Linked DNA regions of Homo sapiens. The protein of the gene in region 6 interacts with the protein of the main gene of each other region in a pairwise test. Each region holds a gene or a part of one and is shown on either strand. Other genes may lie near its edges.

Region 1 (4,213 bases), on a different chromosome or scaffold from region 6:
AGATACACATAAACACATAAATTATTATGGAAAATGGTAAATAACATAATAGGAGCTAAGGAACCATAGATAAGTATAGAAATCCTTGGGGAAGGTAGGCAGGAATTGATCTTCAAGCTGGTCTTGAGGGACACAAGATTTTGCCCAGAAGGCTTGGAGGTAGGTCAAGGAATCTGTTCTGGGCAGAGTAAATAAGATGCTTGTTGTTTGAAGTATCACTAACAGAACAGTTACATACAGTAACTCTTTATATTTTATTGTCATTGCAGGTGAATCAAACATCCCTTCTGGAACAATACAGAGTAGGAAAGGTTTGCAGAATAAGAGTCAGTTTAGGACCATTGCACCAAAAATTGTGCCCAAAGTCCTAACGTCCAGAATGCTGCCATGTCATTCACCATCACGCTCTGATCAGGTGAATCTGGGACCCTCCATCAACTCCAAGCTGCTGGGGATGTCCACCCAGAACTATGCCCTGATGCAGGTTGCTGGCCAGGAGGGGACATTTTCTCTTGTTGCTCTGCCACATGTTGCCTCAGCTCAGCCAATTCAGAAACCCAGAATGTCCCTACCTGAAAACCTGAAACTTCCTATTCCTAGATATCAACCCCCTAGAAATAGCAAAGCATCAAGAAAGAAACCCATCCTGATCTTTCCTAAGAGTGGCTGTAGCAAAGCTCCTGCCCAAACCCAAATGTGTCCTCAGATGTCCCCTTCCCCACCTCACCACCCTGAACTCCTGTACAAACCCAGTCCATTTGAGGAAGTACCATCACTAGAGCAAGCCCCAGCCAGCATTAGCACAGCTGCGCTGACCAATGGAAGTGACCATGGGGACTTGAGACCACCAGTGACCAACACCCATGGCAGTCTGAACCCTCCTGCTACCCCAGCATCATCCACACCAGAGGAGCCTGCCAAGCAGGACCTCACAGCTCTTTCAGGGAAAGCACACTTTGTAAGCAAGATAACATCTAGTAAACCTTCTGCTGTTGCCAGTGAAAAATTTAAAGAACAAGTTGATCTTGCAAAAACCATGACCAATTTATCACCAACCATTCTTGGCAATGCAGTTCAGTTGATCTCTTCAGTCCCCAAAGGGAAACTGCCAATCCCACCCTACTCAAGAATGAAGACAATGGAGGTTTACAAAATCAAATCAGATGCTAACATTGCAGGTTTTTCTTTACCAGGACCTAAGGCCGACTGTGATAAGATACCCTCCACCACAGAAGGCTTTAATGCAGCCACCAAGGTGGCAAGCAGGCTACCTGTTCCACAAGTGTCACAGCAGAGTGCCTGTGAAAGTGCCTTTTGTCCACCCACCAAACTTGATCTTAACCACAAAACAAAACTGAACAGTGGAGCAGCAAAGAGAAAAGGAAGAAAACGGAAGGTACCAGATGAAATTTTGGCATTTCAGGGAAAAAGGAGGAAATATATCATTAATAAGTGTAGAGATGGTAAAGAAAGAGTAAAAAATGATCCCCAAGAATTCAGAGACCAAAAGCTGGGGACCCTGAAAAAATACCGTAGCATTATGCCCAAACCTATCATGGTCATACCCACTTTGGCCTCCCTGGCTTCTCCAACTACACTACAGTCCCAGATGCTTGGGGGCCTAGGACAGGATGTTTTGTTAAATAATTCACTCACTCCTAAATATCTTGGCTGTAAGCAAGACAACAGCTCTTCCCCTAAGCCCAGCTCCGTGTTCAGAAATGGATTCTCTGGCATTAAGAAGCCTTGGCACAGATGTCACGTCTGCAACCACCACTTCCAGTTCAAACAGCACCTTCGAGACCACATGAATACACACACCAACAGACGCCCTTACAGTTGTCGGATTTGTCGCAAGTCCTATGTACGTCCTGGCAGCCTGAGCACACACATGAAACTTCATCATGGTGAGAACCGTCTGAAGAAACTCATGTGTTGTGAGTTTTGTGCAAAAGTGTTTGGCCACATCCGAGTCTATTTTGGCCATCTGAAAGAAGTGCATAGGGTTGTGATCAGCACTGAGCCTGCGCCCAGTGAACTGCAGCCAGGAGACATACCAAAGAACAGAGACATGAGTGTGCGAGGCATGGAGGGATCATTGGAGAGGTGAGTGCCAATGTAATGGAGACCTGGCAAGAGAGTCTGTTTTGATTTGGGGAAGAGGGGAAGATTTCATATTCAGAAAGGAGAGTTTATAAAACATCTCTAGGATTAAGATTTCATAAAGTAGCTATGTATACCTCCTAGATCTGTGAAGAATGATCTTGTTTCTCTCTGGTTTCTGATCATCCATACTTGGAATTACCCTAACCAATCTAGTAAAGTACTGTATATAGTTCCAGTGGTCTTTACAAGTAATTTCCCCCAAAATCACATCCACAGAATTTGCGTTATTTTAAACAGCATCATTTGCCCCAAAATGCGGCATGACCCATGGTTGGGGACTCAGAGTGGGTGGGTCTGTCATGTTGACCCTACCTTAAGGTGCCCAGACCCCACCCTCTTCATTTGCCCTGTTTTTCCCATCAGTTCGGGTTCACTCTTTCTGGTGTCATTCCTTTTTGCAAGCACTGCTTCCTGGTATTATTGCTATGGGATCCTTGGGGTGTCATTTCACCAGCCGGAAACCTCTGTGGCCAGTGGCGCCTTGGCCTGAGTTTTGCTCTGGCCCATTAGGCTCGTTCCACCCACTTGGAACCTAGCAGGCTGCACTCAGCTCATGCTACCGGCCTAGATCCCATGCCTGCCAAGGGCGAGCCAGGCACAGAGTGGTGAGGGATGTGTGAGTGAGCGTGGGGTCTGGCCACTGCGCATAGGCAGGCACGCCGGCTGCTGCTGCAGGCCAGGCAGCTCCAGGTGCCACCTCCTTGCAAGGCTGTGGCTGGACCAGGCACATCACAAGCAGCTTCCACGGTTGGCACCAGGAACATGATGTTGCCCAGAAGCTTGGAGACTAGGGAGTCACTGCCCTGGCTCAGGGGGCTCCCAGGACAGAGCTCCCCAAAGGGCCGCAGCTCTTCTCTTCACCTGCTGTGTGGCAAGCAAGAGGCGTGTTTCAGCCTGTTTGTGTTACAGCTCTCTTAGCCCCACCATTTGGCAGGTCTCAAGTTCTTGTCCTGCGTTCAGGAAGAATGAGGTACACAGAGAAGTAGAGGGTGAGCAAGATGAAGAGGAGCTTTATTGAGTGATAGAACAGCTCAGAGTTGAACTGCAGGGGGCAGTTCCTCTCTGCAGGCAGGTTTTCCCCGTCATCTCTTGTGCTCTCAGCAGAGAGGGTAGCTCCTCTCTGCCACTGGTCGTCCCATTGTCTCTTCAAGTCTGGCTAAGTCCGGGGCTTTTATGTGCCTCAGAGGAGAGGAAATGCGTGCAGTTGGTCCATGGGCAGTCATGGACAGACCCAGAAAAGCACCACAAGTTCCCACTCCAGTCCACATGACTGGCAACCTGGCCCCCAGGCTTCAGGGCTTCTCTGGCTTGAAGGTGGGGCTTCACCGGGGACCTCCCCTTTTCTGCCCAGGAGCTTCTTTGCTCCCTGCTTCTGTTTATGGCACCCAGGCTGTTCATGCTGAGGGGGCACCTGCAGGCTGGCACCGAGCTGTCCTGAGCACCCCTTCCTCAGCCTCCCTTCCATGCTTATTGGCACCCAAAGTCTGGAGCAGGCCAATGGGGTAGGAGGTGGGCATATCAGCACTGCCTCAAGCGTGTGCACACCCAACCAGGTTACAGCAGAGCCCAGGCTCAGCCCCAGCCTTGCTTTGAGATTGGAGCAGGTGCTGACAGCAGGGAGAAGCCAGGCAGCAGGAGCAGGTGCTTCTTGAGCCCGTGGGGGGAAAGGGGCCTTCCTGGACCCCTGAGAGTGCAGAGATGCCTGGATCTGCAGCCACAGCAGGGTAGCTACAGTGATGCCTGGGAGGGCAGGAGCGCTCCTGCCTGCTCCCAGCTTCCAAGAGCACAGGGGTGCCTGGGTCACAGCTGCAGCTTGGGCAGCTGCAGGCAGTTGTGCCTGGTAAGCTCCCACACCGTCAACTTGGAAAGGGCAGGGCTCGTGCTTGTCCCCAGCTCCCACTGGCTCCATGAAGTGTGGCACCACCCCTGGCCCAGCTCTGCCTCAGGGCCCCTCTCTACCCACTCCTGCATGCCCTAGTGTGCTGTTTTCCCCTGCCAGCAGGTGACTCAGCCTGGCCCCATCGCAGTGGCTCTCATGGCGGCAGGT
Region 2 (4,213 bases), on a different chromosome or scaffold from region 6:
GGTAAAATATGTCCATGTTCCATCCATCCCTGGAGATGAGGGCTATAGCTTCATGATGCCAAATATCTAATCAATCATCATGTTTTCGGATGTTTTCAAATAGCTAGTTTTCTGTAATACAAGCTTACACTAGCCAGTCTTTTTGTTATCTCAACAGTGCATATGGACACAGATTTTTCTGTTTGGAATATTTCTCAAGGCCAATGACTTATTATAGTCCCAACACCTGCAAATATTTGGCAGAGATTGTTCTGTCCTCTTCACATCCCCCACTCTTCCTATAACCCCGCTCCTATCTTTTGCCATTATACAGCTGTAAGTTTATACAATCTGTCCCTTCCTTGATGTCATTAATCATTTATCTATGACCACGAAATGTACAGTTGTGGGAGCATAAAGTTAAGTTTCAAATCACATTTCATGGGGAAAACTTAGATCCAAAACAAAGTGGCAGCCGGCTACAGTACAAAGGATAGTTACTCAATCTAGAGGCTAAGTCCCAGTTCTAGCTTTCCCATTACTAATCATTTCTTTGATTTTGACCAAGTCACTTCATCTATCAAGGTCTGTTTATACAACTTTAAAGTAGAGCGCTTCGACTAGACCAAGTCAAAGGCCTAATATCTTATGAGTCTAAGAACTGAAGTTAACAAGATTATTTCCCTCTGCAGCCTTGATATGAATGAGAGTATCAACTTGAGTGAAATAAAAAAATTGAATTTGCTACACATTTATACATATCAGGTATAAATAATAACCAAAAGAGGCACAAACCATAGTCATTGTGACTACTCTCAATATTATTTGCAACAAATTACAGGACAAATATATCCTATTCTGAGTACTGCTACTCTCACCAACATTATACTTTTTACAGAAGTTACAATGAATCATCCACTGCATGGCAGGAGGAAAATCTCCATTCCCTTCTTGCCCTCCTTTTATCCTATCTGGGTCTTTCTTCTAGCTTGGCTTATGTACTCAGGTTCTATTTGGAGTGGTAATTTTACTATCCGTTTAAACATTTTATTTTTCTAGAATATCTGCTAAGTAGCTCCCTTCTTAAGAGAAATTATACAACATAGCAGACAAGCAATGGGAATAAAACAATTCGCTGGATCATCAGTGTAAGGTAGGAGGACTTTTTATGGGCACTTAGACTTGTACATACATATTATATGACACAACAACTTTAGAAAACTCTGTCCATTGAATACACATAAATGACTAGGAACTTGTAAGGCAGGAACTATAAACAAATGCTTCAGTTTGTAGCCCATAATAGTGAGCACTGTCACAAAATTTGATACTGGATAAAATATTTATTGCCTTCAGTTTAAATTGTTCATTCAGATATTTAATTATCCCTCCCAATTTCGTGGTATACTGAAGTTTCTTCAGTTCTTTGTTTTGTTTTGTTTTGTTTTGTTTTTAAAGGCAGGCTTAGAATTAGCCCTATGTTAAAGGCTTAATGGCAATTTGTAATGGCCAATGCCAAACTTTTGTTTCTTTAGTGTATTGAGTACACAAACACAAACATACAATAATGTCCTCCACAAAAATCTCTCACCTACCTAGATACACTCAGCCACCTCCACCCACACCTACACAGAGACACACCCTGCCTTCCCATTGCCATATACCTACATATGCAAATCGACACATATGCTAATTGTAGTACACGTACACAAGTACTCACATACTTAAAAGAAGAGGTGGAAAGATCATAGCAAAGATATATAATAAGCAATATGTCACTGACAGAAGATAGAGGGTGTGTTTCCCTGGATGAACTACTGGTGTTGCAGGCCATGAGCTGACTCCCCAAAAGTTAGCCAGAAGTGTGTGACTGCAAGAATGTTTATGCAACAGATGAGATAGGCTCCAGGAAGAGCTTGCAGGAGAGCAGGTTATTCCTCATGAGAACAACTTAAAGTTAACTCACTTGTCATATAGGAAAAGTCACCTATTTTATTAGAGAACTTGCTAACTGCATTTATGCGACAAAGTTGTATAGGGGATGCTCCCCAGATCCCTTACCTTGAGTTTCTCAAATCGATCATTCAGGGATGCGACCTGATGGTCTCGGTGACGACCCACCAGTTTGCATAAGGCACAGATCAATTGGTCATCAGATACACAGTACATGTTCACTTTCTCATTCTCATGGTCCAGGCAGGTGATCCCTCGAAGATGTGTGTCTGGCACTGGTTCCACCAGGCGGTGGCTGGTGAAAGGTTTCTTGTTGGGGTGCGTGGCCCGCAGGCAACGGTCACAGTAGGAGACCTCACAGGTGATGCATGTTTTTACTGCATCCCTTGGCGGGTCCTGCTCACAGAATTGGCAAGCAATTCGCTCGCTAGACATGGCAGTGGTGGGCCTGTAAGTCCTTTCCCGGCGGCTCTCACTAGGGGAATTGGGCCCACTGACTGAAGCCTTCTGGAAGCGATCAATAATGTTCTGCAGAGTCACATTCCTCTTGAGGCCATCCAGGCCCCGGTGGTTCAGCGAGATAACATACCTGCAGGTAGGACACTGGAAAGCAGTAATGGGTTCAATGGATTCACCAGAGCTGCAGCTTGATACCAAAATGCGATGGGCACAGCTGAAGCAGAGGCTGTGAGCACAAGGGAGCAGAAGGGGGTCTTCAAACAACTCTAGGCAGATTGGACAGGTCAATTCAGACTCCAGTGTTTCCATCTTTAGTGAAAATAGTCCTCCTGAGGCATTAAGAACCACGGAGGCTGGGCTTTCACCTGCAAGGAATACAAAGCAAGAGTCATTAGGCATTTCCAAAGGAAAATGGATATAACACAATTATACACTAACCAATGGGCGCGTTTACGTGCTGGATTCCCCAGAGATGCTTAAGCAATAGAAAAGCAATTTGGGAACTAATCAGGAAGACTTTCTTCCCCTTCAAACCTTGTTTTAGACAAATGCCTATGTTTATTTTCATGCACAAATAGATAAAACCAAATGGCCACCTCTGAATCCTGATAGACTGATTAACATTACCATTCCAGCTCACAATATTTGCATGGATCATTCTCTCACATATTCTCCACTGACATCTCTTTTCCTAGACTAAGATAAGGCTGAGACCCTGCAAAATTCCCAATCTCTATTCTCCAATATTGTTCTCTATTTCACTTCAAGGTAAACTGTAGGGCTGCTTCTATGTGACATCCAGTGTAAGGAAAACAATGCCATATTTTAAAGTAACTCTCTACTTCCTGAAATGATTCCATTCTGAAAGCCTGCATAAAAAAGAGAGAGCTTTAGAAAAATGTAGCCCTTGGTGCAGGATAATAAGTTTTTCCTCAGAGTGTGAACTTGAATTACTTCTTATTATCACACATGGAAATTTCCGTTCCATTCTATTCCTAGTAAACTGAGTTACTTGAGATAAAAGATGATAGTTTTCACTTTCATCTTCTTCCCTCACCTTCAGAAACCCCTTCAGTTCATCAAGCTGAATGGGGAATGATTTCAAACTTTTCAACCTACTCAGCAATAGTTGCTGATCAATAATAAAGTCATATTGCCTTGTGGCTTCAGTTTGGTTTCATTACTAAACACCTGCTGAACTAGCACAAGCCAGCTATGAAGCTCACCTCCCATGTGTCTTTTCATACTTTCTAAAACATAACAGGATGCAAATCAATATCTAGATAGAAATTAGCAAAGTTCCAGAAATTTTAAGATCTGGTAACCTTCAATTTAGTGAGCATCAGTGAGTAAAAGAGGTCACCCGGCCGGGCACAGTGGCTCACGCCTGTAATCCCAGCACTTTGGGAGGCCAAGGTGGGTGGATCACGAGGTTAGGAGGTCCAGACCTTCCTGGCCAATATGGTGAAACCCTGTCTCTACTAAAAATGCAAAAATTAGCTGGGCGTGGTGGCGCTTGCCTGTGGTCCCAGCTACTCGGGAGGCTGAACCAGAAGTATCGCTTGAACCTGGGAGGTGGAGGTTGCAGTAAGCCGAGATCATGCCACTGCACTCTTGCCTGGGTGACAGAGTGAGACTGCCAAAAAAAAAAAAAACAAACAAAACAAACAAAAAAAGCCACCCAACTGACAAGAAACCAACCTCTTGGTAACTCTATCTATTTTTCCACAGGCATTTCTGTGCTGAACACACAGGTACCTAATTCTTAATTGCCTAGAGTCTTCCATTAATTAAAATACACACACATAAATATTCTAAGTTG
Region 3 (4,213 bases), on a different chromosome or scaffold from region 6:
TAATCCCTACTTGTTTTCAGAAAAGCACTATAAGACTGTGAAACCCTCCAGCCCCCAAATTCCTGCTTATGTCTAAACTTAGTTAACTTTCAATTAGGCCCAGACTGAATTCTCAGTTTATTTTGGCAGAATGAAACCCTTTTAAATTGTTTAAAGAAGGGTTTCAGTTTAGAATTTCATGTTGGGTAGAGCAGAAATGTTTTTAAACCAGGGGTTGGCAAACTTCATATAAAGGGCCAGACAGTAAATATTTTAGGTTTTGCAGGTTATATGATCTCTATCATAGCTACTCAGCTCTTCTGCTCCAGTGCATTCATAGCCATAGACAATCTGTAAATGAATGAGCATGAGCATGTTTCAATAAAACTTTATTTACAAAAATAGGCAGTGGGTATAATTTGCCAACTCTGTTTTAGGGTGGGCTGTAAATCTCTAAAGCATTATATGATGACAAACTTACTTGTTTAAGCAGAAATGTTAAGTAGTTAAATATTTACTTTCCATCACATGCTATAAGAAATCACATACATATTAAAGGCTGAAACACAAAATGAAAGATATAAAGATACTCAGTGATATTCAAGCCCATTGGCCATAATACAAAAGACTGACAAATTTGACTGTATTAAAATTAAGATCACAAAGCACACTATAAAAAACAAATGACAGACCAGAAAAAAATTGCATTCTGTATGACTAGCAATTGCTATGATTTCTCTGCACCCATAAGAAGAATAACCCCCTAAAAAAGGAACAACAGATAGAAATTCACAAGAAAAGATATAAATGGTCAATAAACAGGAAAAGATGCTCATTCTTATTAGTAGTGAAGTCTCTATATTAAAGGGAAATTTTTTGCTGCCAAATTTATACATTTGAATAATTAATAATAGTGTATTGGGGGATAAAGGGAAATAAACAACTGAGGATGATTGTGATAATTTTTATTAGTTATCTATTCTTATACAATAAATTATCCACAATTTAGCAGCTTAACACAACCAGCATTTATTATCTCATAGTTTTCATAGATCAGGAATCCAGGAATGGCTTAGCTGGTTGTTTCTGGCTCAGAGTTCTGTAGAGGTTGCTGTCCAGCTGTCAGCCTGGGCTGCAGTCATTGGGACTGGATGGTCCACTTGGAAACTCACTCATGTGGATGTGGACAGGTCCCAGGTCCTCACTGCCTGTTGGTCAGAGACATCAGTTCCTCACAACATGGGCCTCACCATCCACTGCCTGAGTGTCCTCACACGGCAGCTAGTTTTCCCTTGAGTGAATAAGAGAGAAAGCATCCAAGACAGATGTCATAGTGTCTTCTGTATTCTGATCCTTGAAGTGACATACCATCACTGCCACATGCTGTTGGTCGCACAGCCTAATCATGGTGCAGTGTGGGAAGGGACTATACGGAGGTGTGCAGACCAGGAGGCAGGGATCCTTAGGGACCTTGGAGGTTGATGTCCACATTCCTGTGCTGGGACTGAATGTCTGAGGCCTTGTTTCTGTCTATCACCTGGTTTCTGCACTTCTCCATGTGGCATTTGCTGTGGCTACAGTGTCCAAGATGGCATTTTCTCTCAAATGCTGGCACCTGGGTGGAGTTGGCAGAAGACCCTGGGGACTGTCAGAGCATCTTTCACTCCATGTAGCCTCTCCACATGGCTATCCTGGGCTTCCTTACAACATCATAGTCTCAGGTTAGTCAGACTTCTTATATGGCCTCTGGTTTCCCCCAGAGCCAGCATTTTAGGAGACCTAGGCAGAAATTTCAAAGCATCTTATAACCTAGCCTTGAATTGTTTAGATTTTCTTGCTCAACAACCTGTCACAGGACTGGCCCAGATTCAAGGGCATGATTAGCCAGAGGTATGACTTACTGTGAGGAGCCGTCTTTGAAACTTGTCCCAGGAAACCATGATTGTGAAAGATGATGCTGACGTGTTCTAAAAGTAGTAGCAGTGCAAGGAATAAAAATTGATCTGATACTGGAAATATTTTGAAGATAAAATGAACTTGCCTATGAATTAGTTATGTATAGGTGGGATAATTAGAGAAGTGAAAGATTAATTTGAGAATTTTGAGCTGAGTGGTTTGAAGAGTGGGTATCTATTTACTGAGATGGGAAAGACTGCAGGACAATAGGTTTGAAAAGCAAAATCAGGATTGATTAACATTTTGGACATCTGTGTAAGAGAATACATCTAAAGATGTAGCTATTAAGAAGGGGATCTACAATAGATCTGTAAGTCTTGAAGTAGAAATGCTATCCATGGTATTATTTGCAAGGTACAATAAAGAGAGTATTAATTCTATTAGGAAGAAATAAATATTAATATCATTAACATAGAATTAACATATTTATTAATATTGCATAAACCTACATGTTCTAACATGTCTTTCTACACCTGTGTTAAGCATTTGAATTAAACTACAGGCAGAGAGAATTTTTTGAAGGTTTTTGATTAGAAGACCGATATGATCATAATTATGTTTTGGGAAGATGAATTTAACAGTGTAAGGAGTGAAAGAAGAGTGGGGTAGCCAGGGACTGAACTCTATGAAAGCATACCAAGTTACATTGAAAGTCTATGAAATAAGTTCATGGAGGTCACAGACAATGTTGCTTTCCTGGTTTTATTCTTAGCTTCTAGCCTAGAGCAAGCCACTTGAAAGGGATTTGTTAAATAGTGAATGAATGAATAAATGCATCATTGGCAGTTCAAGCTATTTGAGAAAAGAGTAATCTGAATTAGTAAAATGTCTCAATTATAGATATTTTTCATTGAAATTTTATTATGTTCAGGAGGTAACAGAATCTAGTATAGCATCAACAGGTAGACCTATGGAGACCTGATTTAGTTAGTAGACAAAAAGCATATCAAATATCATCTTATTTTCTTTCATGCTGTATTTCACTCTTTAAAAAAGAAAAGAGTTTACAAGAATTAGGGTTATTTTAAGTTTGTCTCCTACCTGCATAAATTCCTTAAGCTTATAACTTATTTGAATGGTTAGTAAAAGATTCTGAACATCTGAGGTATATTGTTCAAAAAGAGTATAACTATCAAGCAGGAATTTCAAAAGAAATTTTTCAGAGAAAGATACATTGATTAAGTTGTCACTAAGCCAAAGACCATACTTCCCTAGTCCCATAGGAAGTAGATGTTATATTGTTTTAAATAAACTGCAAGATATTTGCTAAAAGTGTCTTGTTTATTTCAGGCGCTACACTAAGTATGAGACCAGCCCCCATTCCAATAGAGGACCCTGAATGGAGACAAACGCCTCCCCCAGTCTCTGCCACATCTGGTACTTTCCGACTGCGACGAGGGAGTCGATTTACCTGGAGAAAGGAGTGCCTGGCTGTTATGGAAAGGTATGTGTCTCCTTTTTCTACGAATGATCTCCCAAACTTAGGGAAGACATCAACTCTGGATAGACTGGGACAGTTTTCATTTCAAACAAGTAACTTGGTATCTTGGTTCTATCTCTAAAAGTACTTTAGAATATCATAAATGCTGTATTATAGAAATAAGGTCATCTTAGCATTGAGAATTCATAAAGCTGGAGTTAGCATCTGTCAATTTATTTTACTTATAATAGTGTCCCCAGTAATTTAAGAAATGTTGGAATAAATATTTTTTGAATTCAGATCTTTGTATTATATTTTGGAAAAACTCTTTGAAGTCTTCTTTTCATCAAAAATAATGAATAATTGTATAGGAGACTACTGAGATTTAACTTTCCTTTAATAAGGAGTATGGTCTAAGTAAGCTTTGTCCCAAAGGTTAAAAATACTTATTTTTGACTTTGTTTTAGTAATTTATCCTCTCATTCTGTCACCAGTACCTGATCCATAGTAGGCACTCAGTGGTTTTTTTTTTAACCTGAATTTGACCGTAGCTTCAATTTTCCTATCTGAAATGGTATAAATTAATTATGATTGTGAAATGTTTGGCATACTTAGCATAGATCCTATAGTAGAATTATCTTTTTAGTCATCTACTTGTAAGTGATGTTTACAGAATTTTGTTTCAATGGAATTTTGTTTATATGCAATTAGGTAATAATGTTCCAGCTGTACATTTTTCTTATCTGACCTGACTAGTAGAATTGGTATATTGGACAGAGCACTGGACTCAGAGTCAGAAGACCTATACCCAACTAACTTTGTTTAGGTCACAAACTCTCAGCTGTAACTTCATGTCTA
Region 4 (4,812 bases), about 91 Mb from region 6:
GTGATGGAAAGTCTGCAGAGAAGCATACTGAACAGAAGATAAAGCTCTAGGGAAGAGTGAGGTGAATAGAGAGAAAGTGAGGGTGCTAAGAGCAAACAGAAAATCAGAAGGGTGTAACATAGCAAAACCAAGGGAAGATAATTTCAGAAAGAAATAGACATGGCCAGAGATGAGAATTTTTCGGTAAGACTGAAGACCATACTCTTTGGGTTGCTAATCAAGGTTGTATATGATCTTAATGAAGCTTTTTTGGAGCGGTTCAAGTGAAAGACAGATTGCAATAAGTTGGGAGGGAGAAGAAGGCTCAGAATGTAGTAGGTTTGGAATGACTTGGTGGATGTAGATTACCCTCTCAGGAAGCATGGGAGCAAATAAAGAGGGTGATGGTCCCAGGCACTTTTACATCTCAAGGACTGCTTTCCTTGCCCATAAAACAAGGAAAATACAGGCAGTACCTGTTTAGCAATGGTGTCCTAAGGATTAAAATCTATTACTAATGAAATATACTTGTGTCCTTTTGCTGAATCCAAATTTATTGTTGTTAGTCGCCATATGTTCATTTTCATAATGTCTTAATCATTAAAGTCAAGTGAATAACAAAACATACAGTTAACTGGCTCTGCATTTCTCTAGCTCAAGTTCTTTGACTGTATATACCCGAGTTTGACCTTAGAAGATATTAACATTTCATTCCTTTAGCAGTTAGAACAAGGACAGTTTAAGTTTGGTCTGGGATTAAGGCAGAATTTCTTCTCTCATCCTGCCTTCCAAACTGAAGAAATGGCCTCAAATGGAGATTCTAAGAGAAAATGTCACTTGCCTTATGAATCAGTGTGCCCCACTGAGGATACCTATTATGGATTGGTTTAATATCCAAAAATTTCTTCAGATCCAACTCTTGACATCTCTGTCCACTTTTTGTGTTTTGAAGATTTCAAAAGACTCAATGAGTTTATGCTTTATGAAGTCATAGAGCCATGGATGTGATGTCACAATTGTGGCCAGCTCACCAGGAAGCAGGCAGAGCGGGGAAGGCTGAGTCCACACTGCAAGTCCAGAGAGCAGGGAACTACCTTGAGTATTCTACTCAAACTTATGTCTCAGAGTTCCCCAATTTCCCAAGAAGGGAGAGATAGAGGCCACAATCCAGGGGGCCATCTCTTAAGGTACCAATAATTTTGCAGGTAAGAGCATGGGACCTCATCCCTTTCCAGATGGCCTCAAAAGGAGATTCTAAGAGACAATGTCCAAAAGAAAAGCTCAGCGGTTCAGACATTTCTAACCTAAAAGAAGGGTTCTGATCACCACCAGAAAACAAAGAAAACAAAGCCAAAAACAGATTGAGGAAACAGAAAATACATCATCCTTTTAGAGTATTATTTTTATAAATATGCCCTTAATTTAGCCTAGTTAGTGGAAATTTCTCAAGTGTGTATGCGTCTGTGTGAACATTGTGTATTTTAAACTTTTTGGAGCTTAGCCAGATACTTCGAATGCTAATCCTGGCAGAATTTCCCTTTAAGGATGTCCTGCAGAGAATTTGTTACTCATAGTTTTAAGTAAAAATTGACAAATAGTGCTTTTTCAGCCCAGTAGGAGTCATGTACACGGTATAAGACTTGGAGGAAATGCAGGGACCCTTCTGTTTTCTCCTGCAAAGTTGAAAAAGCTGCATGCAGTTGGAAGGGATCTTCAGATGGTGCTGGTGACTTTCTGTTCCTTTTGGAGTTGACATGCATGTGGATTGGAGGAAAAATAATCAACATATATTCTCCTTTCGTACTGTTTAAATCACAGGAAGAAGCGGCTTTAAGACAAAGTGAGTTCTTTCCCCCAAATATTTCCTTTGTTTTGTTTTGTGGTATTTTGACTTCTCTAATTTTTTTTTAAGGATGAGAAATTTTTATAAACTTTCCAGTAACTACTTAAGAGAAAACTTTTGCTTGGCAAAAGTGTATGCCTTTTGAAGTTTCTTAGCCATTTTAGCTAAAGGTTATCAAATTTTATATGCTGAGCTTTTCAGATTTCTCATTCTTATAACTTGCATGTGGAGGTAACATAGGGGCCAGATAACTCCTTGGAATTGCCTCTTGAGTTTTTCTAATGGTCTTAATGTGGGGTATAGCTTTATTGTTGTAAAAAGAGGAAGAAGAGGAGGGCTCTTGAGATTTTATTTGGCTTAATTTATTTGAATGAATAACATTATCACTGAGCATATTTTATGACTAGATTTATATTTCAAGAGCACATTTTGAAGTCACTTACAGGTTTTAAGTAAAAGGAGTTAATGAGATTCCTGCTATTTTCAAGAAAAATCTGCCTACTTTCCAGAAGTGGGCATACAAAAATTCATAATCTTTAATTTTCTAAGGTTAAATTAAAATATCTGTGTTTCCAGCCCACAGAAATATATAATAGACTATATCAATCTAAAGTGCTACTTCTTGAAACAGAGGTAGTGTTATTCAGGCAAAAAGCATACATCCCATATGTGTTAATGCTTTCTCTCTCACTATTTTAGTCATATCCTCTTTGGTACCTATCATTCATTTGAAAACCAAATGCAGCTCCTCAGCTGTCATTTCAGACTTTAGAAAATTGGAAACTAAAAAGAATTATTAACAAAATGCATAGCTCTCATACATAAAATGTAAGGAAATCCTTGAGCCATTTTAGCCCTCATTTTATATCCACAATACCATCATGTGTAAATACTAGCATTTTTATTAGCAAAGCATATGGATTAAAATTTAACATAGGTATTGCAAACATATGTATCATACAAGATATTTCTTAACATATGTGTTATGATATATGCTTTAAGCCATAATCCAAATTGCTTTAAGGGGAAGGTAAACTCTAGTGTCTGTTTTCTACACTTGTTCTATTTATTCTCACATTATTATTAGTTGCCAAATCTGGGACTGTTCTACCTAAGCAAGAGTAGTAGATTTGTGTTTTAATATAACACCACCTCACTGACAAATTTACCTCTTATTTTTATTACACTTACCAACATTTTGAGTAAAGCTGAATTAATCTGTGTTTCTTACATAAGACTGGGTACTTTTCTACTATAATATTACAAATAAGAGTTTAGAAAATTTAGAGATTTAGAGAATATTTAGAGACAGATATTTAATTTGTCTGTTTTTATTTTTTCAATCGAGGGAACATGATCTCTTTAGAAATGAAAGCTGAATACTTGGGTTCGCATGGGAAGCTCTGAATCAGATATTAGTTAAACCAGCTTGCATTTCCTTGTTCTTGTAATTATCTTTTTCCTCTCCAATTACCATAATTTTTCTTGGTTACTTTTTGGTACCCTGAAAGCTCATTGAAGGAGAGGAAGAGAAGAAAGAGGTAGAGGAAGAGGAGGAGAAGGAGGACTCCTTTTTGCCCAACATGCCTCAAATCCCTGCAAAATAATCAGCTTGAGGCCAGGCACGGTGGCTCACTTCTGTAATCCTAGCTTTGGGAGGCCAAGGTCGTGGGGATCACTTGAGCCCAGGGTTCAAGACCAGCTGGGGCAATATAGGGAGACTCTATTTAAAATAAAAATAAATAATCAGCTTATTGATGACATACCCTAGTATTTTATATGAACTAGTAAAACATTCTTATGGGTTTGGGTTTACCTTATCCTCACCATATGTCTAAACTTTCACATGGGCTAATTACCCTGATTAGAACATACTAGGATATGTCAACAGCAAGGTTTACATTCATTAAATAAATAAAGCTAGAGAGTCTCTTTGAAAACAATAGTGTGATGTGGAGAACAGAGTCAAGGTTTTGAAGTGTCATTCATACTGAGTTTTCTATGAATGAGGGCAAGTGAGTTTGCCTCCCTACCTTAAAGATATAATTAAAACAGCTGTGTTATAGAATTTTATATTAGAATAATAATAACAGTAGTCATTTTTATTTTTTGTCTTCTCAAATTCTTCGGTTATACTTCCAGCACCAATGGACCTTAAATTTATCTCACTTGATTTTTAGCAAAGCTTTGAGCGATTCCTTTGCATATTCATTTTGCCAAAGGAATACTCACCAAATGGATCCTGAGTAGATTATTTTGATATATTCAGGTTGTCTCCTCCCATTTAAAAATATACCTTTTTGTATTTTTCCAATATCATTGCAATTATAATGCTCTAAAGATGGTGGTGTGGAAGTGGAGTGGAGAAATATGCTTCTTGGGCTTGTTCTCCAGCTTGATTTTGTTTAACTATCTCTTACAATTATTCATAAAACAATTTAAGTAACATGTCATAAGTCACATGACTTCTAAGATTTTTTTCTTCTTAAATTTTTTCTTTTTTGCTTTTATTAGTATTACTATAGACATGTAACTGTACATATCCATCAGGTACAATGTGATATTTGTATACATGTATATGACAAATTATCAAATCAGGGTAAATAGCATATTTATTACCTTATTTTTCATTTCTTTGTGTTGGGAACATTTACAATCCACTCTTCTAGCTATTTGAAAATATACAATAAATTGCTAATTATAGTTACCCTATAGTGCTATAGAACACTCAAACTTATTCCTCCTATCTAGCTGTATTTTGTATTTCTTAACCTACCTTTGGCTATCTCTTTCTTCCCCCTACCCTTTTCTGCTTCCAGTAAGCACTATTCTGCTCTCTCCTTCTATGAGATTGACTTTTTTAGCTTCTTCATATTCATGAGGACATGCAGTATTTATCTTTCTGTGTCTAGCTTATTTCACTTAAAATAATGTCCTCCAAGCTCATTCATGTTGCCGTGAATGACAGAAATTTGTTCTTTTTTACAACT
Region 5 (4,742 bases), on a different chromosome or scaffold from region 6:
GGATCACAAGGTCAGGAGATCGAAATCATCCTGGCCAACATGATGAAACCCTGTCTCTATTAAAAATACAAAAATTAGCTGGGCGTGGTGGCGCATGCCTGTAATCCCAGCTACTCAGGAGGCTGAGGCAGGAGAATCACTTGAACGAGGGAGTTGGAGGTTGCAGTGAGCCGAAATCGTGCCACTGCATGCCAGCCTGGTGACAGAGCAAAACTCTGTCTCACAAATAAAATAAAATAAAATAAAATAAAATAAAATAAAATAAAATAAAGGGCCATGCGCCGTGACTCACGCCTGTAATCCCAGCACTTTGTGAGGCTGAGGCGGGCAGATCACAAGGTCAGGAGATCGAGACCATCTCTACTGAAAATACAAAAAAAATTAGCCAGGCATGGTGGCGGGCACCTGTAGTCCCAGCTACTTGAGAGGCTGAGGCAGGAGAATGGCGTGAACTCAGGAGGCGGAGCTTGCAGTGAGCAGAGATTGCGCCACTGCATTCCAGCCTGGGCGACAGAGCGAGACTCCATCTCAAAAAAAAAAAAAAAAAAAAGAACATCTGGAGCCATAATTCCCGATGTTCTTGTTACTTGACACTGCCTAAAGGCATGTTCTGTGGGTTCCGGGGAAACTGATTTGAAAAACTTGAGTGTTGTAAAGGAGGGCCATAAGCTGAGTGAACACAGCAGTTGTGAGAGGTCCCAGGTGCTTCCTGGGGACAGGGAGACACGACAGACCAAGAAGCAAAGGGGCCTCTGATGTGACTTCAATATCAAGGTCTTGTCGGGCACAGTGGCTCATGCCTGTAATCGCAGCACTTTAAGAGGCCGAGGCGGGTGGATCACTTGAGGTCAGAAGTTCAAGACCATCCTGGCCAACATACTGAAACCCTGTCTCTACTAAAAAGTACAAAAAATTAGCTGGGCATGGTGGCTCAAGCCTGTAATCCCAGCTACTTGGGAGGCTGAGGCAGGAGAATCTCTTGAACGTGGAAGGTAGAGGTTGCAATGAGCCAAGATTGCGCCACTGCACTCCAGCCTGGCGACAGAGTGGGGCCCCATCTCAAAAAAAAAAAAATCAATGTCTCGATGCAGACTGCCAGGTATCAGGTGTCCATCCATGTCTCCCAAAAGCCACTTGGCACCAGGAGCAGACAGGAAGGGCAAAGAGGAGCCAGACTGAAGCAGGGCTTCTTAGCTCCCAAGCCACACAGGTGGCCACCAGTCAGAGAGGCAGTGTGTGTGTGTGTGTGTGTGTGTGTGTGTATTTCTTCAGTTCAGTGTGTGTATGTATGTTTCTTCTGCAGCTCAGTGTATGTGTGTATTCCTTCAGCTCAGTATGTGTGTGTGTGTATGTTTCTTCTGCAGCTGTGTGTGTGTGTGTGTGTGTGTGTGTGTGTGTGTGTGTGTTTCTTCTGCAGCTCAGGATGCCTCCAACATTTCTGCTGAAGCCTCACCCTCACTCCTGGCCCATCCTGAGGCCTCTACCTAAGATGCCAATGAGTAGCCCAGACACTGGGGCTCCAGTGTTTGTCACCAGGTGGTACCTGGATGTGGGAGGTAGACAGGCCAGATGGCCAGTTTGGGCAGTGCCCCTCATGCCTATCTGGCCCTGGGTCCCTATGCCACCTTGCTGGGGAGGGTCTTTTCGCTTACACCTCCTCTGAGCCGACTCTGCGCAGTAACACAAATGTGTATCAGGCACATCCTTTCCTCAAAAGGTGGATGACCAGTTGGGTGATCAGGGCTGTTAGGGGGCTGAAGGGTCCTGGGGAGTCCAGGTCTAGCCAAGTTGAGGCCTATCCTGCTGCATTTTCCAGCCACCTGACCCAAATACACCACCTGAACCCACGACCAGGTATGCCCACACCCCATGGGTGGCCTTAACACACACACCCTGCCCCTTTCTCCAAGTACAGGAGCAGCAGCCCAGACTTCCCTCGGGGCACCGCGGCCTGCTTGGGACTGCACAGTGCCTGGGAGGGTGCCTGGGGAGGGTCACAAGGGACTTGGTGCTAGAAGCAGGAAAAGTGTAGGGACCGGAAAAGCCCCCGTGCATCCTGGAAGGGACATGGGCCAGTTTGAGCAGGGGTGTGGGAGTCCAGCCCTGGCCTTGCCAGGTGGAGAGGCGCCTGGGCCAGACATCCGCGGCAGGAGGCGGGGGAACATGCCAAGAGGCGGAAGGGGCACGCGGAGACCCCCAGGGGGCGCCGGAAGGGGCGCGCCGGGCGGTCGGCGGCGGCCGTTGGCGAGCTGAGGCCTGCCAGGCGAAGTCTGGAGACCAGCCGGGCCGCGGCCGCAATGGCCAAGGACTCGCCCAGCCCCTTGGGCGCGTCGCCCAAGAAGCCGGGCTGCTCCAGCCCGGCGGCGGCAGTGCTGGAGAACCAGAGGCGGGAGCTGGAGAAGCTACGGGCGGAGCTGGAGGCGGAGCGGGCAGGCTGGCGGGCGGAACGGCGGCGCTTCGCTGCCCGGGAGCGCCAGCTGCGTGAGGAGGCCGAGCGGGAGCGGCGACAGCTGGCTGACCGTCTGCGCTCCAAGTGGGAGGCACAGCGCAGCCGGGAGTTGCGGCAGCTGCAAGAGGAGATGCAGCGGGAACGCGAGGCCGAGATCCGGCAGCTGCTGCGCTGGAAGGAGGCCGAGCAGCGGCAGCTGCAGCAGCTGCTGCACCGGGAGCGCGATGGCGTGGTGCGCCAAGCCCGGGAGCTGCAGCGCCAGCTGGCCGAGGAGCTGGTGAACCGCGGCCACTGTAGCCGCCCGGGGGCGTCCGAGGTTTCCGCGGCGCAGTGCCGCTGTCGCCTGCAGGAAGTGTTGGCGCAGCTTCGCTGGCAGACTGACGGCGAGCAGGCGGCGCGCATCCGCTATCTGCAGGCGGCGCTGGAGGTGGAGCGCCAGCTCTTCCTCAAGTACATCCTGGCGCACTTCCGCGGGCACCCGGCTTTGTCGGGATCACCGGACCCCCAAGCTGTGCATTCCTTGGAAGAACCGCTGCCCCAGACCTCCAGCGGCTCTTGCCACGCCCCCAAACCCGCCTGCCAACTCGGATCTCTAGACAGCCTGAGTGCTGAAGTCGGTGTGCGCTCCCGCTCGCTAGGCCTGGTGTCCTCTGCGTGCTCCAGCTCCCCAGACGGCCTGCTCTCCACGCACGCCAGCTCCCTTGATTGCTTCGCACCTGCGTGTTCCCGCTCGCTTGACAGCACCCGGAGCCTCCCCAAGGCCTCCAAATCCGAGGAGCGGCCCTCCTCACCAGACACCTCCACCCCTGGCTCCCGGAGGCTCTCGCCGCCACCATCGCCACTCCCGCCGCCACCACCACCGTCAGCCCACAGGAAACTCAGCAACCCGCGGGGAGGAGAAGGCTCTGAGAGCCAGCCCTGCGAAGTCCTGACTCCCTCACCCCCGGGCCTGGGCCACCACGAGCTGATAAAGCTGAACTGGCTGCTGGCCAAGGCGTTGTGGGTGCTGGCGCGCCGCTGTTATACCCTGCAAGCGGAGAACAAGCAGCTGCGGCGTGCAGGCTGCCCCTACCAGGCAGACGAGAAGGTGAAGCGGCTCAAGGTAAAGCGCGCGGAGCTGACCGGGCTCGCGCGGCGCCTAGCTGACCGCGCCCGCAAGCTGCAGGAGACCAACCTCCGGGCCGTGAGCGCGCCTATACCCGGCGAGAGTTGCGCCGGCCTGGAGCTGTGCCAAGTCTTTGCCCGCCAGCGCGCTCGGGACCTGTCGGAGCAGGCGAGCGCGCCGCTGGCCAAGGACAAGCAGATCGAAGAGCTGCGGCAGGAGTGCCACCTCCTGCAGGCGCGTGTCGCCTCGGGTCCCTGCAGCGACCTGCATACTGGAAGGGGCGGCCCCTGCACCCAGTGGCTCAACGTCAGAGACTTAGACCGCCTGCAGCGCGAGTCCCAGCGGGAAGTGCTGCGCCTGCAGAGGCAGTTGATGCTTCAGCAGGGCAACGGTGGCGCTTGGCCCGAGGCGGGCGGCCAGAGCGCAACCTGCGAGGAGGTGCGACGGCAGATGCTGGCGCTGGAGCGCGAGCTGGACCAGCGGCGGCGCGAGTGCCAGGAGCTGGGCGCGCAGGCGGCCCCGGCGCGGCGACGTGGCGAGGAGGCCGAGACACAGCTGCAGGCGGCGCTGCTCAAAAACGCCTGGCTGGCGGAGGAGAATGGGCGGCTGCAGGCCAAGACCGACTGGGTGCGGAAGGTGGAGGCTGAGAATAGCGAAGTGCGCGGCCACCTGGGCCGCGCGTGTCAAGAGCGCGATGCCTCCGGCTTGATCGCCGAACAGCTGCTGCAGCAGGCGGCGCGCGGGCAGGACAGGCAGCAGCAGCTGCAACGCGACCCGCAGAAGGCCCTGTGTGACCTCCATCCTTCCTGGAAGGAGATACAGGCGCTCCAGTGTCGGCCTGGTCACCCTCCTGAACAGCCCTGGGAGACCAGTCAAATGCCGGAGTCCCAAGTTAAAGGTAGCAGAAGGCCCAAGTTCCACGCACGGCCTGAAGACTACGCAGTGTCACAGCCCAACAGAGACATACAGGAGAAAAGGGAAGCCTCCCTCGAGGAGAGCCCAGTTGCCCTTGGGGAGTCAGCCAGTGTCCCCCAAGTTTCAGAGACAGTCCCTGCCAGCCAACCTCTGTCCAAGAAAACCAGCTCCCAGTCAAACTCCTCCTCTGAGGGGTCGATGTGGGCCACCGTGCCGTCCTCCCCTACTCTGGACAGGGACACAGCCAGTGAGGTGGATGACCTGGAGCCTGAC
Region 6 (4,213 bases):
GTAGAGAAGTGGACTTGACCACCATGCCCACTGTTTGGACATTCCAGGCAGCTGTATTCCAATAGTAATGATAGAAATAATAATAATAATGATAATTGCTGCCATTTATTGAGTACCTGTTATATTCCTTCAAGATACTGTGCTGTTTTTTACCTTCATTGTTGTTTAATACTCTTATTACCAATGCAAGGTATATGTTATTTTCACGTTGAGAAATATAGGGAAAGTAAGATTCAGAGAGAGAGCGAGAGTTCTCCTAGTTCATCCTTGTCACAAATCACAGGATTTACTTCTGTCTAAAGGCTGAATAATATTCTATTGTATACATACATCACATTTTCTTTATACACTCATCTGTTGATGGACATTTAGGTGGATCCCATATCTTGGCCATTGTGAATAATGCTGCAGTGAACAAGGGGGTGCAGATGTCTCTTTGACATGCTGATTTCATTTCCTGTGTTATATACACAGAAGTGGGATTGCTGGATCATATGTTAATAGTTCTATTTTTAAATTTTTTTGAACCTCCATACTATTTCCCATAATGGTTATACTCCTCTAAATTCCCACCAACAGTGTACAGTGGTTCCTTTTTCTCCACATCCTCACCAACACTTACCTTTTCTTTTTGGTAATAGCGGTTCTAACAGGTGTAAAGTGTATCTATCTCATTGTGCTTTTGATTTGCATTTCTCTGATGACTAGTGATTTTGAGGATTTTTTTTCACATACCTATTGACCATTTATATGTCTTCTTTTCAGAAATCTTTATTCAGATCCTTTGCCCATTTTTCTTTCTTTCTTTTTTTTTTTTTTTTTGACATGGAGTCTCACTCTGTCGCCCAGGCTGGAGTGCAGTGGCGCGATCTCGGCCCACTGCAAGCTCTGCCTCCTGGGTTCACACCATTCTCCTGCCTCAGCCTCCCAAGTAGCTGGGACTACAGGTGCCCGCCACCATGCTTGGCTAATTTTTTATATTTTTAGTAGAGATGGGGTTTCACCGTGTTAGCCAGGATGGTCTCGTTCTCCTGCCCTCATGCTCCACCCACCTCGGCCTCCCAAAGTGCTGGGATTACAGGCATGAGCCACCTCGCCCAGCCCCTTTGCCCATTTTTAAGTTATTTGCTTTCTTGCTGTTGAGTTGCGTGAGTTCCTTATGTATTTTGGACATTAGCTTTTTCCCAGATACATGGCTTGTAAATACTTTTTCCCATTCTGTGAGTTGTCTCTTCACTCTATTGAGTTTTTAAATAGTTCTTTACTGCCCCTTCCAAAGAGGCAGCCTTCTTTGTTTTGTTTTTGCTGACCAATTTCCTTCCATTCTTTTCTTTTTCTTCCTATTTCTCTTCTTCCCGCGTCTTCCACCCAGCATCACATGTAGTGCTAGATTATGGGCATACGATGATAAATATAAGAGAGAGAGGAGAGAAAGAGTATGTGTATATATATGTGTTTGTGTGTTCTACTCTCAAGAACCACACAGGCTAGTAGGAATACAGACAACAGCAGGTAGTAATAATACGGCATGCTAAACATTGCACATTGAGTGGTATTTGGGTCCAGGAAACAGGCCCGTTTCCTTCTAGATGTCTTTTCCCCTGACTTCTGTGCTGTGGCACCCTTTACGTCCCCTCTGTCTTACTCCTTACATCCCCTTCCCTTAAATATGATAAGTTCCAAGTATTCTTCTATCTTTTGCCCACTTATATCTTGCTCTTAGCCTCCCATGGATTCTTATATACGCTTGTGATATTAACTCTTACGTCTATGCAAATTACCTCCAAGGTCTACATTTCCAGGATTAATGTCTTACCTCATTTCCAAACTATAATATAACTCGAATTGCCTTACAGAAATTGTAATGTGGCTATCTCATTCATACTGAACTTCCATTGTCCAAATCTGTTTCCCTCTACAAAAGATGATCTGAACAAACAACAAAAATCCATTCTGAGTTCTCTGTGTCAGTGAATGACTTTATTAGTTCATCCGTTACCCGATCTCTAGAAATCTCTGGGTCACTTTTAACCCTGAATTCAGCTCATCTTACCCGTTACACACTGGGCAATGAGTTAATTAGCTGATGAACATGATCTAGTATAATCTTTTCATTATGAGATAAGTATTATATTTCTCTGTTTTACAGATGAGAACCTTGAGGCCAGAAGGGTCAAATAACGTTTCTAAGGATGATACATGGCACCTAAGAGATCAACCTAGGATCAAACCAACATTAGTATCTCTGCGAAGTCTGGCCTATTGCCCATTATATTGTATTTTCTCTTCTTATAGTTGGTCTGATTGTTTCTTTTGTACCAGTGCTAACATACTTCACGTCCACATTTGTATTCTTGCTCCTTTTTTGTGACTTTATAATCTACATATATTTGTGACTAGGAAGATTTTATTAATAGTGTAGAAAAATTTTTCAGTAGGTTAAGCTAAAACAGGGCTCAGCAAACTCTATAACAGACCAGAGAGTGAGTATTTAGGCTTTGTGAGCAACACAATCTCTATAGCAGCTATTCAATCTTACCTTGATAGCAAGAAAGCCATGGCAAATGATAAATCAAGAAATGGCTGTTGCTGTGTTCCAACAAACTTTATTTGTAAAAACAGACTATGGGCAAGGCACGATGGCTTAAGCCTGTAATCCCAGCACTTTGGGAGGCTGAGGTGGGCAGCTCACTTGAGGCAGGAGTTTGAGACCAGCCTGGGCAATGTGGCGAAACCTCATCTCTACAAAAAATACAAAAGCTAGCCGGGCATAGTGGCTTGCACCTGTAGTCCTAGCTATCTCTGGGGCAGGGAGCCACTGGAGCCTGAGACAGGAGGATCACTTGAGTCTGGGAGGTTGATGCTCCAGTAAGCCATGATCATCCCACTGCACTCCAGCCTGGGTGACAGAGTAAGACCCTGTCTCAGAAACAAAAAAAAGCCAAAGCCAAAAAAAAAAACCCCAAACAGACTACTGTGGGCAGATTTGGCCCTTGGGTCTGTAAATACTTATTTCATTTTTACTATCTAAGCTAATGTGTTTTATTGGATTTACTTATTCATGCATTTATTTATGTATTTAAAAACACATTGATGTATAATCTCAATTAGATAAAATAGAAGTTAAGGGAGGTCCTTGCAGAGATACCATTTGAACTTAACAATCTTGGACCTTTGATTGAGAAGTATACTTTCTTTTTTTTTTTTTTTTTTTTTTTTTTTTTAGTGAGGCAGAGTCTCACTCTGTCACCCAAGCTGGAGTGCAGTGGTGCAATCCTGGCTTACTGAAGCCTGAACTCCTGGGTTCATGCAGTCCTCCTGCCTTAGCTCCCCAGTAGCTGGGACTGCAGGTGTGTGCCACCATACCCGGCTAATTTATTAAATAAAATTTTTTTTTTTTTTTTTTTTTTGTAGAGATAGGGTCTTGTCATGTTGCCCAGGCTGCTCTCAAACTCCTGGGCCCAAGTGATCCTTTCGCCTTGGCCTTCCAGAGTGTTAGGATCATAGGCGTGAGCCACCACACCCTACTGAGAAATGCACTTGACCCCTGGACAACTGATTACCCTCCCTCAGTCAGTTGAAAATTCCTGTATACCTTTTGACTTCCCCTAACTTAACTATTAATTGTTAACTGGAGGCTTTACTGATAACATAAACAATTGATTAACACATATTTTGTATGTTATAGGCATTATATACTGTATTACAATAAACTAGAGAAAAGAAAATGTTATTAAGAAAATCATGAGGAAAGAAAATGTATTTACTATTTATTAAGTGGAAGTAGATCATCCTAAAGATCTTTATTCTTATCTTCATGTTGAGTAGGCTGAAGAGGAAGAGGAGGGGTTGGTCTTGCCTTCTCAGGGGTGGCAGAGGTAGAAGAGATAGGGGAGGCGGAAGGGGAGGCAGGAAGGGCAGGCACACTCAGTGTAACTGTTACTGAAAAGAATCTGCATGTAAGTGGATCTGCACAGTTCAATCCATGTTGTTTGAGGGTCAGCTATATTTGAATTGCCAAGAATTCTGAACTGTCTCATGGCTAGCTAGGCATATGAATTTATGCTAGTTACGTGATCTTTTTGAGCTTTATATTCTTTGTTGGTAAAGTGGTACGAACAATACTTACATCACAGAACTGTTGAAGGGATGAAATGGAAGAACAATGTATTAATAGAAGTATGAATGTCGTTGGTCTTATCCTCCTGGGTCT
Region 7 (4,875 bases), on a different chromosome or scaffold from region 6:
CTCCGGGGAGGGCGCGGGGCGCTCTGGGAAATGTAGTCCTGCCAGCTTCCTGAATCCGGCGTCCCCAAATTTGTTTCCGGCGGGCTGAGTCCTAGCCGATGCTTTGGGAAAGACGCGCGAGATTCCGGGGGTAGATCCGGGATGCGAGGCGGGGCGCGCATGCGGGGCGGAGCTTGTGCGGGGCGGGGCGTACGTTGAGTGTACGCCTGCTGTGTATGCTGCGTTGCTGCTCACCCGAACTCGGTGCTGGGACTCTTTCCTGGGCACCCCAGGCAGAGGGAAACTCCGGATCATGTTCAACCAAAGAGGAAAAGCAGCGAGAATCCAGCATAGGAGACGGGCCTTAGGATGCCCAAGTTAGGATTAGGGGCAAACTACGTTAACCTGGTAGTTAGGAGCTGAAGTTCTGGAATCAAAGATTTGGGTTCCAATCCCATTTCTGTACTTCCTGTTTGACCTTCTCTGGGGGGTTCAATACTTAAAACTCTCAGAGCTTCAGGGTTTTGTTTTGTTTTGTTGAACCGGTAGGTCTAGTTATAGTACCTCTATTACTAAATGAGGAAGAAACGAAGTACAAATGTGTTTTGCTTGCTTGATGCTCAAGAATTGATGCGACCGGGAGCGGTGGCTTACTCCTGTAATCTCAGCACTTTGGGAGGCTGACGTGGGTGGATTGCTTGAGGCCGTTGGAGACCAGCCTGGGCAACATGGGGAAACCCCATCTCTACTAAAAATACAAAAATTAGCCGGACCTGGTGGTTCGTGCCTGTAATCCCAACTATTCGGGAGGTTAGGTAGGAGAATTGCTTAAAACCGGGCGGCGGAGGTTGCTGTGAGCCAAGGTCGAGCCACTGCACTCTAGCCTGGGCGACAGAGTGAGACCCTGTCTCTAAATAAATAAATACATACATACAAGAATTGATACCTGGCTGGGCACACCTGTAATCCTGACACTTTGGGAAGCTGAGGCGGGAAGATTGCTTGGGCCCAGGAGTTTGAGACCAGCCTAGGCACCATGGTGGGACTTCATCTCTAACAACAACAACAAAGATTGATGCCCATTATTATGTTGTCAGAAAGAAGCAGGCAGGACAAGGGATATTTGGGGTTGGACGTTGTTGGGGGCCCTCTTGGGGGAGGGTGGGCGCAAGCACTTGGCATCTCTTCCAGTTTTATCTTGAACAACTTCTGCCTTTATTTATTTTATTTATTTATTATTTATTTATTTATTTTTTGAGATGGAGTTTCGCTCTTGTTGCCCAGGCTGGAGGACAATGGCAGGATGTCGGCTCACTGCAACCTGCGCCTTAGCCTCCTGAGTAGCTAGGATTACAGGCATGAACCACCACGCCCAGGTTTCTCCACGTTAGTCAGGCTGGTCTCGAACTCCCGACCTCAGGTGATCCGCCCGCGTCGGCCTCCCAAAGTGCTAGGATTACAGGTGTGAGCCACCGTGCCCGGACGACTTTGCTGGCTTTAAAGATGGAGGAGGCGGCCAGAGGAGAGCGGAGCGGGTGTGGAACAGTGACTGGGAAAGTAGCCCAGAGGCTGCAGAGTCGCCGCACGCTCGCGCGGTCACCGAGGTGCTGGACTACGTTACCCACAATGCGTGCCTTTGAGGACCACATTAACCACAGTGCACGTCGCGGACCCGCCCACTCGGCCGTGTTGCCACGCCCCCAACGGCCGGCTTAGCCAATGGTGCCACGGCTACGTTACCCACAATGCCGCCTGCGGGCCCACCCGCACGGCCTGGTTTGCACCCCTGGTTTAGGGTCTTCGGCCCCGGCTCTGGCGTCCCTGGCTGCCAAGCCTGAGGCCCGCAGTCCTACTCCCGCCGAGACCCGCCGCTCCGGTCCTGCCCCGAACTGCCCACGGCCGGCAGCGCTTCCAGTGAGTGCGGGGGGCGCGGGGACGCGGGTCCCGGCCGAAGCTTCGATTTCGCGGCCCGCGCCAGCACCCGGGTCTGTGCCGCGGCCTCGGGTACCGCTCACCCTCCACCTGAGGGATGAGACGGGAAAGCAGCCCGGCCTGGGGGTCCCAGCTCTCCCAGGACCCTGGAATTGGGGGGCTGTCGTGACCACCCACGCGGGGGTGCCTGACGGGGCCGCGTAGGGGCTTCAGGGTTCGCCAGACCTGGACACCGGGGATCAAGTTGAGGCAGAGTCTGCAGAAAGGCCCTACTTTTCATCAGATTTCCAAAGGAACCCCTTCCATATAGGACCCACTCTAATCATGGAAAATAACGATTCTCGAGCTCTGACCGCAAACATCCCTTTTAGATTGTTTTTGTTTGAGTCTCTCTCTGTCGCCCAGGCTGGAGTGCAGTGGCGCTATCTCAGTTCACTGCAACCTCCATCTCCCGGGTTCAAGCGATTCTCCTGTCTCAGCCTCCCGAGTTGCTGGGATTACAGATGTGCTACCACCATGTCGGGCTAATTTTTGTATTTTTTGTAGAGACAGGGTTCCACCACGTTGACCAGGTGGTCAACTCCTGAACTCACGTGATCTGCCCTCCTCTGCCTCCCAAAGTGCGGGGATTACAGGCGTCAGCTACTGCCCCCAGCCATCCCTTTTAGTTCTGTCAGCAACCTGTGTGTGTAGGTCCTGTTATCATCTCTGTTTGCCCAGTGAGGAAGCAAAGCCCAGAGCCCTTCAGTAAATTACCCGGGAATTAACAGGGGGTTAATAACAAAGATGACATTCATCCACTTCCTTTTCCTTTTCCATGGTGGGGTGAGCTGGCCTTGGAACCAGGGCAGGGGCTTCCCAGGCCAAAGGGCTTATCCAGCCCCAGGGCTGCCCTTCAGATGGTTTTATCGTCTCTCCACAGGGCCCTGAAAAAAACTCTCTTCCTGTGTCTGGCCAGAGGTATAGAGAGAGACAGGTTCAACTCTAAGGCCTGAAAAGGAACAAGGCCCACCGGAAGCAATGGCCACTGTCCCTGGCCTCCAGCCCCTGCCAACCTTGGAGCAGGACCTGGAACAGGAAGAGATCCTGATTGTGAAGGTGGAGGAGGACTTCTGCTTGGAAGAGGAGCCCTCCGTGGAGACGGAGGACCCCAGCCCTGAGACTTTCCGCCAGCTCTTCCGGCTCTTCTGCTACCAGGAGGTGGCTGGGCCCCGGGAGGCCCTGAGCCGCCTCTGGGAGCTGTGCTGCCGCTGGCTGCGGCCGGAGCTGCGCACCAAGGAGCAGATCCTGGAGCTGCTGGTGCTGGAGCAGTTCCTGACTGTGCTGCCGGGGGAGATCCAGGCTCGGGTACGCGAGCAGCAGCCGGAGAGCGGTGAGGAGGCCGTGGTCCTTGTGGAAGGGCTGCAGCGGAAGCCCAGGAAACACAGGCAGCGGGTGAGTGGGGGCATTTTGACCCTCAGGTGAGGAAATGGGGCCCTGCTGCTGGGGTCTGCAGCTGCAGATTCCTTGGTCATTGGGTGACCAAGTGTGGCTGCCTGGCCCCTGAGCCCTTTTGAGGAAAGCAACTGCAAAAGATTTCTCAGCCTTGGCTAATGGGTGTCCACCCTTTGATTAACCTCATCCTACCCCAATAGCCCTTTATTAGCTAGTGCAGATGGTTTGTGAACACTGTCCTAGGGTAGGCCAAACATGTTTTTTTTTTTGAGACATAGTCTCGCTCTGTTGCCCAGGCTATGGTGGTGTGATCACCGCTCATTGCAGCCTCTACCTCCAGGCTTCAAGCAATCCTCCCACCTCAGCCTATTGAGTAGCTGGGACTACAGGCATGCACCACTACACCTGCTAATTTTGTGTATTTTTTGTAGAGACAGGGTTTCGTTATGTTGCCCAGACTGGTCTTGAACTCCTGGCCTCAAGTGATCCTCCCATCTTGGCCTCCCGAAGTGCTGGGATTACAGGCATGAGCCACTACGCCAGCCCCAAACATAGGTTTTGGTGGGAGAGAGGTCCGGCACCTTCCAAGGCAGGGAGTTGAAACTACCCCCAAAGTGGGAGAACACTGGGAAGAAAGACCAGGGGCATGGGGGGCACTTTGGTTAGAGCCCCCAGAGGTTCTAGAGCTGTGCCATGCAAAACAGTAGCTGCCAGCCACATGTAGCTTTTTAAATTATAGCTATGTACATTTATTTTACTTTTTTTTTTTTTTTCTTTTTTTTTGAGATGGAGTCTCGCCCTGTCGCCCAGGCTGGAGAGCAGTGGCGCAATCTCGGCTCACTGCAAGCTCCGCCTCCCGGATTCACGCCATTCTCCTGCCTCAGCCTCCTCAGCAGCTGGGACTACAGGCGCCCACCACCACGCCCGGCTAATTTTTTTGTATTTTTAGTAGAGACAGGGTTTCACCGTGTTAGCCAGGGTGGTCTGGATCTCCTGACCTCGTGATTCACCTGCCTTGGCCTCCCAAAGTGCTGGGATTACAGGCGTGAGCCACCGCACCTAGCCCATTTATTTTACTTTTATTTTTGTGAGACAGAGTCTCTCTCTGTCGCCCAGGCTGGAGTGATTCTCGTGCCTCAGCCTCCCAAGTAGCTGGCATTACAGGGATCTGCCACCACGCCAGGCTGATTTTTGTATTTTTAGTAGAGACAGGGTTTTGCAATGTTGGCTAGGCTGGTCTCAAACTCCTGGCCTCAAGTGATCTGCCTGCCTTGGCCTCCCAAAGTGCTGGGATTACAGGCATGAGCCACTGTGCCCGGCCACTGTGTAGAATGTTAAATTAGTTCCTCAGTCACACTGACCACCTCTCAAGGGCTCAGTCGTCACACATGGCCAGTGGCTACTGTACTGGATGGCACAGACAGGACCCTTCTGACACACCGAAATCTCTATAGACAGTGCCTCTCCACCTCCTTCCAGCCCCATTTGAAGGAGTAGAGGAAGCCTCTTACTCATTCCTGCTGCTTCAGT

The links.
Region 1: the proteins of FARS2 (region 6) and ZNF438 interact in binary tests that used the Homo sapiens proteins (3 or more experiments, as listed by UniProt).
Region 2: the proteins of FARS2 (region 6) and MID2 interact in binary tests that used the Homo sapiens proteins (3 or more experiments, as listed by UniProt).
Region 3: the proteins of FARS2 (region 6) and HMBOX1 interact in binary tests that used the Homo sapiens proteins (3 or more experiments, as listed by UniProt).
Region 4: the proteins of FARS2 (region 6) and FHL5 interact in binary tests that used the Homo sapiens proteins (3 or more experiments, as listed by UniProt).
Region 5: the proteins of FARS2 (region 6) and RIMBP3 interact in binary tests that used the Homo sapiens proteins (3 or more experiments, as listed by UniProt).
Region 7: the proteins of FARS2 (region 6) and ZNF500 interact in binary tests that used the Homo sapiens proteins (3 or more experiments, as listed by UniProt).

The regions. Positions count from the first base shown.
Region 1 is NC_000010.11:30,846,424-30,850,636, reverse strand, and holds part of ZNF438 (zinc finger protein 438), read left to right. Parts: intron 1-269; coding exon 270-2,106; intron 2,107-4,213. UniProt on the Homo sapiens protein: Isoform 1 acts as a transcriptional repressor.
Region 2 is NC_000023.11:107,839,213-107,843,425, reverse strand, and holds part of MID2 (probable E3 ubiquitin-protein ligase MID2), read right to left. Parts: intron 2,757-4,213; coding exon 2,041-2,756; intron 1-2,040. UniProt on the Homo sapiens protein: E3 ubiquitin ligase that plays a role in microtubule stabilization. Mediates the 'Lys-48'-linked polyubiquitination of LRRK2 to drive its localization to microtubules and its proteasomal degradation in neurons.
Region 3 is NC_000008.11:29,015,535-29,019,747, forward strand, and holds part of HMBOX1 (homeobox-containing protein 1), read left to right. Parts: intron 1-3,225; coding exon 3,226-3,379; exon of another isoform or gene 3,380-4,213. UniProt on the Homo sapiens protein: Binds directly to 5'-TTAGGG-3' repeats in telomeric DNA. Associates with the telomerase complex at sites of active telomere processing and positively regulates telomere elongation.
Region 4 is NC_000006.12:96,561,537-96,566,348, forward strand, and holds the start of FHL5 (four and a half LIM domains protein 5), read left to right. Parts: upstream 1-1,591; 5' UTR 1,592-1,819; intron 1,820-4,812. UniProt on the Homo sapiens protein: May be involved in the regulation of spermatogenesis. Stimulates CREM transcriptional activity in a phosphorylation-independent manner.
Region 5 is NC_000022.11:18,608,990-18,613,731, reverse strand, and holds the start of RIMBP3 (RIMS-binding protein 3A), read left to right. Parts: upstream 1-1,812; 5' UTR 1,813-2,297; coding exon 2,298-4,742. UniProt on the Homo sapiens protein: Probable component of the manchette, a microtubule-based structure which plays a key role in sperm head morphogenesis during late stages of sperm development.
Region 6 is NC_000006.12:5,362,123-5,366,335, forward strand, and holds part of FARS2 (phenylalanine--tRNA ligase, mitochondrial), read left to right. Parts: intron 1-4,213. UniProt on the Homo sapiens protein: Is responsible for the charging of tRNA(Phe) with phenylalanine in mitochondrial translation.
Region 7 is NC_000016.10:4,764,035-4,768,909, reverse strand, and holds the start of ZNF500 (zinc finger protein 500), read left to right. Parts: upstream 1-1,747; 5' UTR 1,748-1,893; intron 1,894-2,833; 5' UTR 2,834-2,931; coding exon 2,932-3,345; intron 3,346-4,620; exon of another isoform or gene 4,621-4,875.